Linked DNA regions of Homo sapiens. Each later gene encodes a partner of the first gene's protein in a complex. Each region holds a gene or a part of one and is shown in the gene's direction. Other genes may lie near its edges.

Region 1 (7,019 bases):
CTGTAATTAATTTATTAGGCATTTTCACTAATTTGTGCATTTTATATCTCTGAAGAGCACACTGCTAGCAACCTGATTGTAAATGACCAGAAGGACTTATATCCAACCTATGTGACTTAAACATACACTTAAGTACTCTAAACCACTATTTAAAAAATACTTCTAGAGAGATTCTGAAATCTTAATTTGGTTGCACTTTCTGGTAATATATTTTTTGAAAACTATTTTGATATTTCTTTCATATAACATTATTGGATCTGTATCACTAAGTTAATTGTCTAAAAGGTAACTGATTTCATCAAACCTTCCAGTATTAATAATTTTTAAGCCATTTTGAAACTGAGGCCTAAAATACTGAAATGCTTATGTCGTTGTACTTACTCCTTTCTGAAATGATCAGATTTTTAAAAAATGGATTTCTCATATAAATAATATTATCAAAAAAGGATTTCTCATATAAATAATATTATCAAAAAAGCTGATTTTAAAAGTTTCTCCCAAAGTCTTATTCTAGTAATTATAGAGACCTAGGTAATGAGTGGCAGATATATCTGCCTTTCAGATATGCCGTAATGTGAAAAATAACACAGTCATGTGATATTCTTTATTAACTAAAACTGTGTTGTTTTTATTTTGGAGTAGTTCTCATAATTCATTGGTAGGGAACTATCCAGTATTTATATTCCTATGTATGTATATCAGATTAATTTTGAGGCTTGGTATTCCTAAAAGATTTGGATGTGTGTATTTCTTTAACTTGACGTAAACATGTATCACAAACATATCTTTTAATTCCAATTAAAGGGGTGCTTTGGCACATGCTGAAATCTGGGATTTTTTTTTTTGACTTTGATAAATTTATCAAAAAGATTGGAACCAAATGTTAATTAGGGTAAGTTGTCTTTGAAAGTAAAGTGAACTGTTTTATTTAATGGAATTGTGTGTTTTTTGTTGTTGTCGTTTGTTTTTACAGTGTGCTTAAGTAAGTTTAATTCAGCTTAATTACATCAGTTTAAAAGATCTTGAAGCTTTCTTTTTTTCTTTTAAAAAAACAGATTCTGAAGGAAGATTTCCATTAGGTAATTTGTTTAATCAGTGCAAGCGAAATTAAGGGAAAATGGATGTAGAAAATGAGCAGATACTGAATGTAAACCCTGCAGGTAAGTAAGGATATCCTTTTTTCTTTTTTTCTTCGTTTTGAGACAGGATCTTGCTCTGTCACCCAGGCTGGAGTGCAGTGGTGTGATCATGGCTCACTGCAGTTTTGACTTTCCTGGGCTTAAGAGATCCTCCCCTATCTCAGCCTCCTCAGCAGCTGGGACAACAGGTGTGTGCCACCACACCAGGCTAATTTTTTATTTTTTGTAGAGATAGGATTTCACTATGTTGCCTAGGCTGAAATATCTTGAAGCTTGACTATGTTGTGAGGAAGCTTCAGACCATTCCATATTTTATAAAAACATGATAGAAAAACTATCTTTAAATACTCTTTTATTCATGCTGTAAGAAAACAGGCTATATTATTTTTAAAGTCAAGTTTGTGATTTTTATTTTCATGGAAATTCATTACATGTCCTATTTTTCTGCCTATCCTTTCACATTCCACATATTCCTATTCTCTGTTATATAGTACAGAATAGAGAAGAATAGTGAGCCTGCTTATTTTCACATGGGCTAGTTAGTGATTTCTGTAATATAAACTTACTGGTATCTTTGGTATCTTTCCTAACAAATAATTTTTATATTCTAAATTACCTAGGGTATTTTCCCTAATTCTCCATGGTGCTTCAATAGCATGTTATTATCATAAAAATGAACAGTTTTGTGGAATAGATGACCAAATGTGAGTAACTCAAGATAATTTAAAATGTATTTATAGTTTTAAAAATAATCTCCCAAAAAGTTAATTAGAATTGTGTAATATCTGAATAGTGAGAACAGTTCATATTGGTATACTTTGGATAATTCTTTGTCTTATAATTTTATTAATATTGAAAGCTATTTTCTGTCATTTTAAGTGTATTTCGTAACTAAATACTACATCTTTCTTTCCTCAGTGACTTAACTCACTATTGTTTACAATGTACATAGTTTTCTTTGATCTGAACAAACATGTTGAATTTGAAGCTTCTTTACCATTGTTTATTTACAGATCTTTTTAAAGTATGGTAAAAAATTGAAAAAAATTTATGTAATTAATGATCATTTCTGTGCTGCTGTATACAATAGCTGTATGAGTATGCTTTAGGGTTATAAATGGATAATATGTACCTACTTAATTGAGATGGGGATGGTAATACAGTTTAGAATATATTTTACATATAGGTAATTGCTTCTTTTCTGCACTGTCCAGTATGGTGACCACTAGCTACATGTGGTTATTACTCCTGGGCTCAAGTGATCCTCCCTCTTCAGCCTCCTCAGTAGCTGGATTACAGGCGTGTGCACCACTGTGCTTAGCCACATGTGTTTGTTGAGTACTTGAAATGTGGCTACTCTGAGTTGAGATGAAGGTCAACTATCTCAATAATTTGTTATATTGCTTGCATGTTGAGATGATATGGTTATATTAGATTAAATAAAATATATTTAAATTAATTTCACCTGTTTTTACTTTTTAATGTGGCTACTGGAAAATTTAAAATTTCTTATATGGCTTGCATTCTATTTCTATTAGAAATAGAAACACAGCTTTAAAATGTGTACTTTTTGTTTCCTAACTACAATAAGACCTAGTTCTAACCCTGTTCTTGGTGCTTGTGTCCAGCACTGCTTTAAAATAAAAGACTTGTTCTTCAATATTTGAATAGGCCTAAGATAGACCCTCTTTGTAGTAAATTCTTCACATAGCAAATAGTCCAAGTCACACTCTTACTCTTTTACTTGGAGGAAGTAGGTTATTCTGACCTTCAGTTTTTTCATGTATAAAATTGGGATATAAATACCCTCTGTATAGATTTATAATTAGGATTTAGTGAGATATTGTATATGTGTGTTAAGTCTGTGAAGCACATACTAGGTATGTAATACATGAAAGTGTGGTAATGTTATTCTAATTATGCCACTCATTGGACACCAGTAATTGAAAATGTGATTTTCTGGTGCTGTGGTCATATACAATTGGAGTGGTTACTATTGAGATATCAGAATTCAGAAAGAGGGAATTAGTACACAGTAGGAAACAATTTTGAAGTCAATCACATTCTGTACTCAGCTTATCATTTTAATTTTGGTTTTCTTAAAGTCAGCTCAATAGGGGTTATGGAACTCCAACAGTTAGGTGAGTATGAGTAACAAAATATAAAGCAATTAATACAAACATGGGTTAAAAATGATAAGGTCAAATATATAAATTATACTGAGAGAATGTTTACTGCTGCAGAGACACAAACATACTTGAAAGGATGTTAAAATTGTTGAAGAAAAGAAAACTCGATTATGGGAAATAGATGTATTTAAATTGAATACTCCAAGGGACAGTTTAAGACATTTTATTATAGTTCTGACTCCTGTGTCTTCTGGACCAGTTTTGTGGTTCACCTTAATGGCACAATGATGAAAGCACTATGTTACAGGTAGATGTTTAATGTTTTTCTCAACCATCCACTCTTACACGAAAATGTCATCTAATTTATGTGATCCTGATCTTTCTGTCCCCTTCCACTTAATCATTTTTGTTTATCTCTCTTTACATTCACGCCCTTGTTCGTCTCTTTAGCTGTCAATACTCTGCTGTATTCTAGTTTTGTATTTTCTGTAGTTATATGGGATTAAAAATGTGGGTTTGAATTCTAGCCATAATCCTTTCTAGATATGTAACTTCTTGTGAAACACATTCCTTCTGTAAAATGAGGATAAACAGTTTCTTTCTAGAGCTCTTGAAGCTTATAGACCACATATGTAAAGTGCCTTAGCTAATAGGTACCAGGTAGTGTGGAATCTAATAGGTACCAGGTAGTGTGGAACCTGGTATCTAATAGATGACAATAGTAATGGTAATGATGAAAGAAACAGTACTACGACTACTTCCACTAAGACTATAATTACTACTGATGGTTATGATGATGTCCCAAACACACCATCCTAACACCGGCTTCTTACCAGTTTGAAAACTTTTAAGGCATTGTTTGACTTCTCTTTAATCCTAGATACATTCTGCTTAAAAGTCCTTCATTATTTTCTTTAAAAGTGTAACATTATTATTTATCCCACAGTTACTACCCTTGCTCTTTACCAGTTAGCTTGTGACTGAATTACTGAAGCATTTTCTTAGCGGTTTCCTACTTTATACTTTCTCTTTTTGTAATATACTCAGTATTCTTCTGCCAAATGAATCCCTCCCATCTCTTCCCTATGATATCTAACTTAAGCTCTGACAATTTGAGTGTGGGAGTAGTTAGCAGTGATTCTGGTGAGGTAAGCAGGGGCAAGATCATAAAGGACCTTAAGTTACAAGGTAAAGAGTTTACATTTTGGCTGGGTGCGGTGGCTCACGCCTGTAATCCCAGCACTTTGGGAGGCCGACGTAGGTGGATCACGAGGTCAGGAGATCAAGACCATCCTGGCTAACACGGTGACCCCATCTGTACTAAAAACACAAAAAAATTAGCCAGGCGTAGTGGCAGGCATCTGTAGTCCCAGCTGGGGCAGGAGAATGGCGTGAACCCGGGAGGCAGAGCTTGCAGTGAGCTGAGATTGCACCACTGCACTCCAGCCTGGGTGACAGAGCGACACGCTGTCTCAAAAAAAAAAAAAAAAAAGTTTACATTTTTTGTGACATAATGGGACTACTTTTAAAGGATCTTCAGTGAGGGCATGCTTGAGAAAATCAGTCTTCATTCAGTATAGTTTGAAGACTGGAGGCAGGGAGACTACTTATGAGACTAGTGAAATAATTTGGCTCTAATTGATGATTTTGTTTAAAACAAAACATTCCTACCTTCCTAAGTATGTCAAGAATTGTAAAGATTTAAACACATGTATGCTTTTTATAGGTTGGTGAAAATTTTTGGTTTCAACATGTCTTAAAACATATTAAAGCCCATGCACATAGACCTGACATGTTATAATTATCTTTAGGCATATAGAAAATGATTTGAGTGATTCAGCTCTGATTTGCGTTAACAATAATGAACAAAACTGTGGCCCAGTGGTAGCTAATTCAGTAGCCTTTCTGACTTAAAGAGCTTTCAGGGCAAAGCCAAGTGCCTCCACTTGATCTCCATGGAATTTGAGTATGAAGGACACTCTGCTAGGTGATGGGGATACAAAGAAGGACATACAGTCTAGTTGTGGTTTCTCCTTTGAAGCTTATGACTTAGTTGGAAGAAAAAGACTGCTATATAAAAAGAAAGTGATTTCCATGACGTGTTGAATGAATAGTATGTGAGCAATTAGTGTTCCTGTACCTAGAGTTGTAAGGGAAGTTTTAATGCAGGGAGTAAGACTTGGGCTATATCCTAAAGGATTTTGATAACTGAAAATAACAGTGAGGGCGACATTCTACTGGGAACTCCAGTATGTTGATCTCTTTCAGAAGAATCAATTTTATATAGGCTGGAAGATTTACAGGATGGTAAGTAATAGGAGAAAAGTTTAGGGAGATGAATTAGGACTTTGAGATGTTGGCTTTTCTTGAAAGCAAACTTTGTCTTGAGGCAGTAAAGCATCAGCAGTTCAGCTCAACAATCATATGCGATTATTTGCTAAATGCCTTTCATTCTCTTTTGGATTACTAATAGTTCTTAAGTGTTTATACCTAGTTATGGGACGTTTGGCAAATCATTTAAACATTCTCAGCCTTAGTTTCCTTATCTGTCTTCAATGTTATAATAATTAACTGCCAAACTTGTGCATAAATAAATGATAGAGTGTCTAGCACAGTGCCTAATAGTAGGCATTCTATAAATATTAGTTTATCTCTCTTCTCAAGATGCTTTGTCTTTTCTTAATATCTCCAATTAGCTCATAAAAGTCTAAGGGTTTTATATTTGGTGTTGCTGTTAGCATAGATTTTATGATCTAAACGTGAAATAACATGCTTCTTTTGGTAAAAACAAACAAATTTGGTTTGTTTTTGGTAAGAAACAAACATGCTTTGTTAAAATTCAGTGCCTTGGTTTACTTTCCTTGATAATGTGAAAAGTAATCTTATTTAGTTGTTTATTAGATTGAAGTAGATGAAATTCCCAATATGTGACTGTAATTTACCTACAAAAATGGTAATGTCATGTGATTCAACCTAATCTAACTTACCACTATATCTATAAAACAGTAGATACTTAAAATACTTAGAATTTTTTTCTTCATTTTTCTCTTTAAGATCCTGATAACTTAAGTGACTCTCTCTTTTCCGGTGATGAAGAAAATGCTGGGACTGAGGAAATAAAGAATGAAATAAATGGAAATTGGATTTCAGCATCCTCCATTAACGAAGCTAGAATTAATGCCAAGGCAAAAAGGCGACTAAGGAAAAACTCATCCCGGGACTCTGGCAGAGGCGATTCGGTCAGCGACAGTGGGAGTGACGCCCTTAGAAGTGGATTAACTGTGCCAACCAGTCCAAAGGGAAGGTTGCTGGATAGGCGATCCAGATCTGGGAAAGGAAGGGGACTACCAAAGAAAGGTTGGTATATATCATGTCCAACAAATGGAAGATAAACAAGTGGAAAAAAATTGTCTGGTTCTTGTACTACACTTTCCTTGTTCTAGGAATGAGAGAGATTCAAAAAGTGAAAATGTAAGGCTTTACAGTTTGTATATATTTTTACTTAGTAATAATGTGAGAACCATCTCACTTTTTCTTTAGGTTGATGTTTTTTCTTGTTTGAGTAGATTTAATTTTCTTGAGCAGAATGTTAACGATTTATTTCCAGCAAAATATACACTGATGTTTTTCACTGTTACGAGTTTTACGTATATTCTCTAAGTTTGAAAGGAGTCAGAAATCCATCATACTTATTTAATATAATTATGTCCATTACTACTACTAATAAATATACATTTGATTGATAACGTCT
Region 2 (7,937 bases), on another chromosome or scaffold:
GCAAGAATGGAAGCAGGAACAGAGCACAGTAGTCCAGGTGAGAAACTTGAACTGGAGTGCTAAAGGAAGAGAGAGAGAGTAGTTTTATGTAGGATAAATTTTACGAGTAAAACCAGTAGGACTGACAGGCTCTGTGATACTGAGAGATACATATTTGGTCTCCTGACCAGGCTCCTGGCATTCAACTTCTAAAATCCTTGGAATCTCCAGTGATGTGTGTTTTTGTGTGCTGATGAGTTGATTCATGGCTAGCCCCTCTAGGTGGCTTCATGATTAGAGGGTTGGAACTTTCAGCCTCACCCCCACCAACTTCCTGGGAGGGGAATGGGGCCAAAGGTTAAGGCAATCACTGAGGATCAGTGATTTAATCAGTCATGCCTAGTAGTGAAGCCTCTAAAAACCGGAAAGGGGCCGGGTGCGGCGGCTCACGCCTGTACTCCCGGCACTTTGGGAGGCTGAGGCAGATGGATCGCAAGGTCAAGAGATTGAGACCAGCCTGGCCGACCTGGCGAAACCCTGTCTCTACTAAAAATATGAAAATTAGCTGGGCGTGGTGGCGTGCGCCTGTAGTCCCCGGGAGGCTGAGGCAGGAGAATCGCTTGAACCCGGGAGGCAGAGGTTGCAGTGAGCCGAGATTGTGCCACTGCACTCCACCCTGGGTGACAGAGTGAAACTCTGTCTCAAAAAAGAAAAAAAAACCCGAGAGGAGGAGTTTGGAGACATTCTAGATAGCTGAAGGCATGGAGGCTCCCACAGGATGGTCTCCAGGCCTCTTCCCGGTACCTTTCCCTGTGCATCTTTTCATCTGTACTCTTTGTACTACCCTTTGTTAATAAACTGGTAAATGTGTTTCCATGAGTTCTGTGAGCTGCTCTAGCAAATTAATCAAATTCAAGGAGGGGGTCATGGGAACGCTGATCTAACCAGTTGGTGAGAAACACAGATAAAACAACCTGGGGCTTAGGACTGGCATCAGAATTGGGGGCAGCCTTGTGAGACTGAGCCCTAAACCTGTGACACATTATCTCCAGGTAGATAGTGTTGGAATTGAATTGGGGGATACCCAGCTGTGTCCACCGCAAAATTGCTTGCTTGGTTGTTGGTGGAGAGAAAGCCCCACAAACACTTCTTGGTGACCACAGGTTACAGAAGTATTTTGTGTTGTGAGAGTATAGTAGGAAAGAAGATTTGTTTTTTTGCCGGGCGCGGTGGCTCACGCCTGTAATCCCAGCCCTTTGGGAGGCTGAGGCGGGCGGATCACCAGGTCAGGAGATCAAGACCATCCTGGCTAACACAGTGAAACCCTGTCTCTACTAAAAATACAAAAAATTAGCCGGGCGAGGTGGCACGTGTCTGTAGTCCAAGCTACTTGGGAGGCTGAGGCAGGAGAATGGCATGAACCCAGGAGGTGGAGCTTGCAGTGAGGCAAGATCACGCCACTGCACTCCAGTCTGGGCAACAGAGCAAGACTCCGTCTCAAAAAAAAAAAAAAGATTTGTTTTTTCCTCCGCAGGTTGGATGTGGGAAATGAAGAAAAAGAAATGGAGGATGATGCCTAGGTTTTTGGCCTATGTAACGGGAAAAGTGGGAGAGGAACAGGTTGGGGGAGGAAAATGAAGAGTTCTTTTCTCTTCTGGTTTCCCTGCCCTCCCATTCAAAGGCCAGGAAATTTCTACAGCTAGGCAGGATGATTGGCTCCGGCATTCCTTAATTTCAGTCCTCAAAATCAAGAGCTTACACCCTCAGGGATCTTCTTGCAGTAGAGGGAAGGGTGGTGACGTACAGTGAAAAACATGTTGGCCTTCTTCATACTGAGTTTGAGTCCCACTTCTGCCATTTCTTTCTTTCATGACCTTGTGCAAGTCACGACTTTCCAAGCTGCAATTTCCTCATCTGTTAGGTTGAATGTTGAGAACTTCCCGGTAGGATTGTTATGAGCATTAACTGCGTGTTTACTTTGTGCTGTGTCTTGTTCTAAGTGTATTATGGATAGTCACTAGTTTAATCCTCATATCAAATGGATGAGGTGTAGGTACTACTATTTACACTCTCTGACAGATAAGGAAACTGAGGTATAGAAGGTTATTAAGTAGGTTGCCCACTGTCATAAGCCAGTAAATGGAGGAGCTGTATTTGAATTCTGGCAGGCTCCAGAATCCTGGGCCTGGGTTCTTAGCTGCTAAGTGCTTCTCCCTTTAAAGTGTGAAAAGCGCCTGCCCATCATGGGTTCTCCAGTGTTCGTTCTGATGTCTCCTCCATTGTCTGACCTTCCTCCCTTACCCCGAAGAACCGAAACATGCAGATCCTGAGCTTGCCCACAATCTAGGCCTTGGGTCTTCTGTTCTTTCACTTGGTTCCCTTACCTGTGTCTCTGTTCCTCTCTAGAACCTTCATGGCAAAAGGCAAGACTTCTGTTTGTTGTACCTGACCTGTGGCACTATCTCTTTAGGTGGACATCTTCAATAAGGAGCTACTGCTAATCCCCATCCACCTGGAGGTGCATTGGTCCCTCATCTCTGTTGATGTGAGGCGACGCACCATCACCTATTTTGACTCGCAGCGTACCCTAAACCGCCGCTGCCCTAAGGTTTGAGGGGGTAGGAGAGAGATGGGCAAAATGTGGGGCGGTGCAGTGGCAAGGCATTGCAGGAAGAAGGGTGGGCTTTGGGTCTTTGAGGGGCGACCTGGGCATGGTGTCTGCCAGCACTGTACCCACCATACTGTGTTCAATTGAGAAACTTAGGGCATCACTTTCTTTTCCCCCATCCACATAGCATATTGCCAAGTATCTACAGGCAGAGGCGGTAAAGAAAGACCGACTGGATTTCCACCAGGGCTGGAAAGGTTACTTCAAAATGGTGAGTTTCCTGAGGGAGGGGTATAGGGTGTTGGTGGGGACAGTGGTAGAAGGCAGAAATTGAAGTCCTACCCCTGGGAGTCTCCATGTGAAGGGCCTGCTTTCTTTCTCTTCTCTAGAATGTGGCCAGGCAGAATAATGACAGTGACTGTGGTGCTTTTGTGTTGCAGGTAAGCAGATGATGGGGCCACCTCCCCTAGCTCTGAAGTCAGTTGGGTTAAAGGGTCGGGAGGCTGTTATGCATCCCCTCATTTGGCTCATAGTCAGTTGTGGAGCAGGAAGTAATCTGTTTTAGAACACCAAAACACTGGCTTCACTGGTTCTCTTCTGGACTTCTCCATCCCACATTGGGACTGGGTCTCTAGTCTTGGGCCTCTGGCCTTCATAGAGCTCCCTGCTAACCTCCAACTCAGTGTATTTTCTCCATCTAAAACATTCTATCAAGTAAGAACACTAGCTTTAGAGTCAGGCTGTTTTTGAACCCCAGGCTGTGGGACCCTGGCTCCCTTTGGGGATGTTCTCTGAAGGATGGAGACACATCTCATATGAAATGTGTAGCACAGGTCCTGACACGGGGGGTTTCTCATGGCTTGCTTTGTTAACACCCAGTACTGCAAGCATCTGGCCCTGTCTCAGCCATTCAGCTTCACCCAGCAGGACATGCCCAAACTTCGTCGGCAGATCTACAAGGAGCTGTGTCACTGCAAACTCACTGTGTGAGCCTCGTACCCCAGACCCCAAGCCCATAAATGGGAAGGGAGACATGGGAGTCCCTTCCCAAGAAACTCCAGTTCCTTTCCTCTCTTGCCTCTTCCCACTCACTTCCCTTTGGTTTTTCATATTTAAATGTTTCAATTTCTGTATTTTTTTTTCTTTGAGAGAATACTTGTTGATTTCTGATGTGCAGGGGGTGGCTACAGAAAAGCCCCTTTCTTCCTCTGTTTGCAGGGGAGTGTGGCCCTGTGGCCTGGGTGGAGCAGTCATCCTCCCCCTTCCCCGTGCAGGGAGCAGGAAATCAGTGCTGGGGGTGGTGGGCGGACAATAGGATCACTGCCTGCCAGATCTTCAAACTTTTATATATATATATATATATATATATATATATATATATATATATATATATATATATATATATATATATATATAAAAATATATAAATGCCACGGTCCTGCTCTGGTCAATAAAGGATCCTTTGTTGATACGTAAGTGGTGGTCTTCCTTAAGGGGCTTCAAATTAGTGGATATGCTTAGCTCAGACCTTCCAGCCAGTCTCTTGAGACTAAAGGGTTCAGCTTTCCATCCCTGGCTCAGGCACTGCCAACACCTTGTCTTCACCCAAACAAATCCCCGAGATGGGAGCAGAGAGCAGGAAGGAGGGAAAGTAGATAAGCCTCAAGAATAAGGGCATCCGAGAGGGAAGCTGGGGAACTGGACACAAGGGACTGGGGAGGGGACCAACCAGGATTCATGATAGTACCCCAAAGCCCTTTACAGTTTTCTTCCATCCCTCCACCATCCAGCCAGGGGAATCCTCCCATCCCTACGATATCGCTGTTGATTCCTTCATCCCTGGCACACGTCCAGGCAGTGTCGAATCCATCTCTGCTACAGGGGAAAACAAATAACATTTGAGTCCAGTGGAGACCGGGAGCAGAAGTAAAGGGAAGTGATAACCCCCAGAGCCCGGAAGCCTCTGGAGGCTGAGACCTCGCCCCCCTTGCGTGATAGGGCCTACGGAGCCACATGACCAAGGCACTGTCGCCTCCGCACGTGTGAGAGTGCAGGGCCCCAAGATGGCTGCCAGGCCTCGAGGCCTGACTCTTCTATGTCACTTCCGTACCGGCGAGAAAGGCGGGCCCTCCAGCCAATGAGGCTGCGGGGCGGGCCTTCACCTTGATAGGCACTCGAGTTATCCAATGGTGCCTGCGGGCCGGAGCGACTAGGAACTAACGTCATGCCGAGTTGCTGAGCGCCGGCAGGCGGGGCCGGGGCGGCCAAACCAATGCGATGGCCGGGGCGGAGTCGGGCGCTCTATAAGTTGTCGATAGGCGGGCACTCCGCCCTAGTTTCTAAGGATCATGTCTGCGAGCCAGGATTCCCGGTAAGAAAGGCATTTGCAAGAGATTGTGGCTGCTTATTTTGCCGCCCCCTTCCGACGGGCCCGCCGGGGGTAGCTGAGAGGCCCACCAGGGTTGCGGGAGAAACCGAACCGGGTGGGGGGAGGGTCCGACTTGGAGGGGCGAGGGGGAAGACCCACGGCCGACGCGGCCACCAGGTCGAGGCGGAGGGTAGGGACAGCCCGGCTAGGGTCAGGCGTGCGAGGTCTGTTACGAGGCCTCGACCCGAGGCGGTGCCATGCGCGAAGCCCCGGCGCTGAGTGGCGAGACGGGGTCGCGACCTGGCGTGGGAAAGAAAGGTGGAGGCGGCCGCCACTATGTGTGGCCCAGAGCCGGCAGGTCCGGTTGCCTCCCTGTGCCGGGGGAGGGACGGCGCGCGGGGTTCCGGAGCATTCTGACGGTACCACTCGCGAGAGGCGGGGGTGCCTGGTCCTTAGATCCAGTCACTTCGTCGCGGCTAAAACACGGGTCGGGGAGAAGAAACCGGCCGTTCAGTGTGCTGGTTTTCTTGACGGCCAGGACTGAGCCTAACCCCGAGGAGCGGCCGCGTGAGGCACCAGGAGCCCACCCGGCGCCGGGCGGGCGGGTCCATTTTGCCGCACAAGCCGGGCTATTGGCAAACTGCGGATGGGCAGGTCCACCTTCCTTCGGGGGTGAGCGGCCTGAGGTATGGGAGGGCGACGCTACTTCGCGACGGGGGCGGGCGGGATGTGGATTGTTCATGGAGGGGTGGGAGACGCCGCCGGGTGGTCGAGGGAGCGAGCACATGGTGGCCTGAGGCGTTCCCCTCCCCCAGTCTGCTTCGCTTCTAAGTGTTGTGCAATCTCCCCCTTTGCTAGCTCGGCTTGGGCTCATTGTGCGCGAGGCCGCCACCGCCCGCGGCCTCCCACATCCGGGCAACGCGAGGGGGGGGCTTCGGCTGGAGGGAGTGGGGGAGGGCGCGGGCGGGATGACGTGGGGGGAAGGGGATGTCCTACCCTCCGATCTGGGAGGTGAAGGGCGGGACTTCCAGCGCGCTGGTGCTGCGGTGGGAGGTGCACGCGCTTGGGCTTTAAGCGGCTGGGTCGGGCCCACGTGGACCCGGCGGCAAGCACCACCTCTGGGCACCGTGAGCGCGGCGGCACGCCTGCCGGCCTGTCTTCAGAAAGGGTCACCCCCTTATGTCGGGGGTGGCCTGGCCTGAGCCGCTGCCTGCATGGGGCAAATGCCTCAGTTTTATAGAAACTCCTCCTTTGGGTATTTTTTGGGAGCTGGTGGGAGTTGGATCTGGGACAGCAGATTGATGGCATCATGCAGGCCACTCCTGACAGAGCCCGGCTGTCAGGATTTCTGAGTGCTTCGGTCGGGCAGGGGACAAAACTTATGCTTTAAACCAACAGATCCAGAGACAATGGCCCCGATGGGATGGAGCCCGAAGGCGTCATCGAGGTGAGACTGGAGAAATGGAATTCTGTCCTCCCCCATTACAACTTTCAGCCGTATAGAGTTAGAGTGGCCTCTTGATTGATTTCCCAGATCATCTAGAAGCAGCTGGTTTCCCTAAAGGGAGGAGGGTTGTAAGCTCTGAGGCTTTTGTTAGTAGGCACCAGATTCTGTTTGCTCGGAGACTACAGCTCAGCTCCACCTTTTCCATGACTCAAGCTTTAATTTCTTTGCATCCCCTAGAGTAACTGGAATGAGATTGTTGACAGCTTTGATGACATGAACCTCTCGGAGTCCCTTCTCCGTGGCATCTACGCGTATGGTTTTGAGAAGCCCTCTGCCATCCAGCAGCGAGCCATTCTACCTTGTATCAAGGGTGAGACCTCTCAGTCCCAGAAGACATTGTGGACTGTCCCTGACCTGGGTAGAGTGGCATCTGGTTGGTGATGCCCATCTCATATCAGCCAGGGACAAAGCAACTCCTTGTTCATCCCAGCTTGGCTTTTGATCCGTGCCCATGCCTGGTTCATGCCTTGGACACATAGGTTTCCTTTAAAGAGGTGGTATTGTAGCCAGCTTATATTTGCATCTACAGCCATGTTTCTAGTCCAGCTTGGTGTGCAATACTAGATGAGTTAATAACTGGTCCTTGTTTCTGATCTGGTTCCCATTGTGTAACTGTGTTGATTGGGAAGGTAGTTTGTGAGCCATGAAATGCTTGGTTCATTGGTTGCTTATTGACCTCATTAACCTAGGACTTGAATATCCCAAAGGGTATGCTCTTTACCACATTCAACTCCTAATTTATTTGTTTAGGTTATGATGTGATTGCTCAAGCCCAATCTGGGACTGGGAAAACGGCCACATTTGCCATATCGATTCTGCAGCAGATTGAATTAGATCTAAAAGCCACCCAGGCCTTGGTCCTAGCACCCACTCGAGAATTGGCTCAGCAGGTAAGAGTGGCTTCTATTCCCTCCTTCAGGGCTGATTTAGGGATGATGAGTATAATCCAAGGACCAGAGAAGTCTTCTCTGATCACCACCTTGGGAGGAAGACATGGGTGCCCTAACACTCTCGAGACCTGCTGGGTTAATTAAAAGCTATTTCTTACCCAAACGTAACCATTGCTTCCTCCACCCATTTCCTGAGTCAAATGGGAAAGCTGTTGGGTGAAGCCTGGCTGGCTGGGCAAGTTTGACTGTGTTCTGAATAAGCACCTTCACTATGGGCTAAGAGATCCCTTGGTGTGGGGGTGATCTTACAGTAGTCAGAGCAGATGGACAGTCCTTTTCACCCTTGCTTAATAGCCAGAGCTGTTTCATGCCTGGGGCACACACAATTCTAATGCTGGACTTTTTCCTGGGTCATGCTGCAACACTGATGTCAGAGCATGTTTTTAAATGTTCTGTGGCAGGGGCAGTGATTATTCTGGGTGTGGATAATGTAAGAAGTTACAGCAGAGCTCCATTCTAAGGCACTTGGCTCTCAGTTTTCTCAGAGTGAACATGCCTCGTAGCTTGGGTCCTATGGCAGGAGTG

Evidence for each region. The genes of interacting proteins can lie anywhere in the genome.
Region 2: the proteins of PDCD4 (region 1) and EIF4A1 are in contact, whole or in part, in a crystal structure (PDB 2ZU6), measured with the Homo sapiens proteins. Residues at the interface, in NP_055271.2 of Homo sapiens: Pro170, Gln173, Glu174, Glu177, His178, Glu183, Glu186, Met187, Asp190, Leu209, Glu210, Lys212, Glu249, Leu250, Leu252, Asp253, Thr254, Pro255, Arg256, Gly320, Gln321, Gln322, Ser323, Val324, Leu327, Glu348, Lys352, Glu355, Val356, Pro357; in NP_001407.1 of Homo sapiens: Gln75 (codon at 7,230), Thr109 (codon at 7,332), Arg110 (codon at 7,335), Glu111 (codon at 7,338), Ile135, Gly137, Val140, Thr158, Gly160, Arg161, Asp164, Glu186, Leu188, Ser189, Arg190, Gly191, Phe192, Gln195, Ala214, Thr215, Met216, Pro217, Glu240, Leu241, Thr242, Asn280, Thr281, Arg282, Arg283, Thr329.

The regions. Positions count from the first base shown.
Region 1 is NC_000010.11:110,874,911-110,881,929, forward strand, and holds part of PDCD4 (programmed cell death protein 4), read left to right. Parts: intron 1-1,055; 5' UTR 1,056-1,117; coding exon 1,118-1,160; intron 1,161-1,759; exon of another isoform or gene 1,760-1,833; coding exon of another isoform or gene 1,834-1,843; intron 1,844-6,322; coding exon 6,323-6,625; intron 6,626-7,019. UniProt on the Homo sapiens protein: Inhibits translation initiation and cap-dependent translation. May excert its function by hindering the interaction between EIF4A1 and EIF4G. Inhibits the helicase activity of EIF4A. Modulates the activation of JUN kinase.
Region 2 is NC_000017.11:7,567,907-7,575,843, forward strand, and holds the start of EIF4A1 (eukaryotic initiation factor 4A-I), read left to right. Parts: upstream 1-4,918; 5' UTR 4,919-4,935; coding exon 4,936-4,958; intron 4,959-6,353; coding exon 6,354-6,402; intron 6,403-6,639; coding exon 6,640-6,772; intron 6,773-6,806; exon of another isoform or gene 6,807-6,941; intron 6,942-7,212; coding exon 7,213-7,352; intron 7,353-7,937. Other genes in the region: SENP3 (sentrin-specific protease 3), read left to right, coding at 2,450-2,587, 2,775-2,858, 2,977-3,027, 3,467-3,577. UniProt on the Homo sapiens protein: ATP-dependent RNA helicase which is a subunit of the eIF4F complex involved in cap recognition and is required for mRNA binding to ribosome.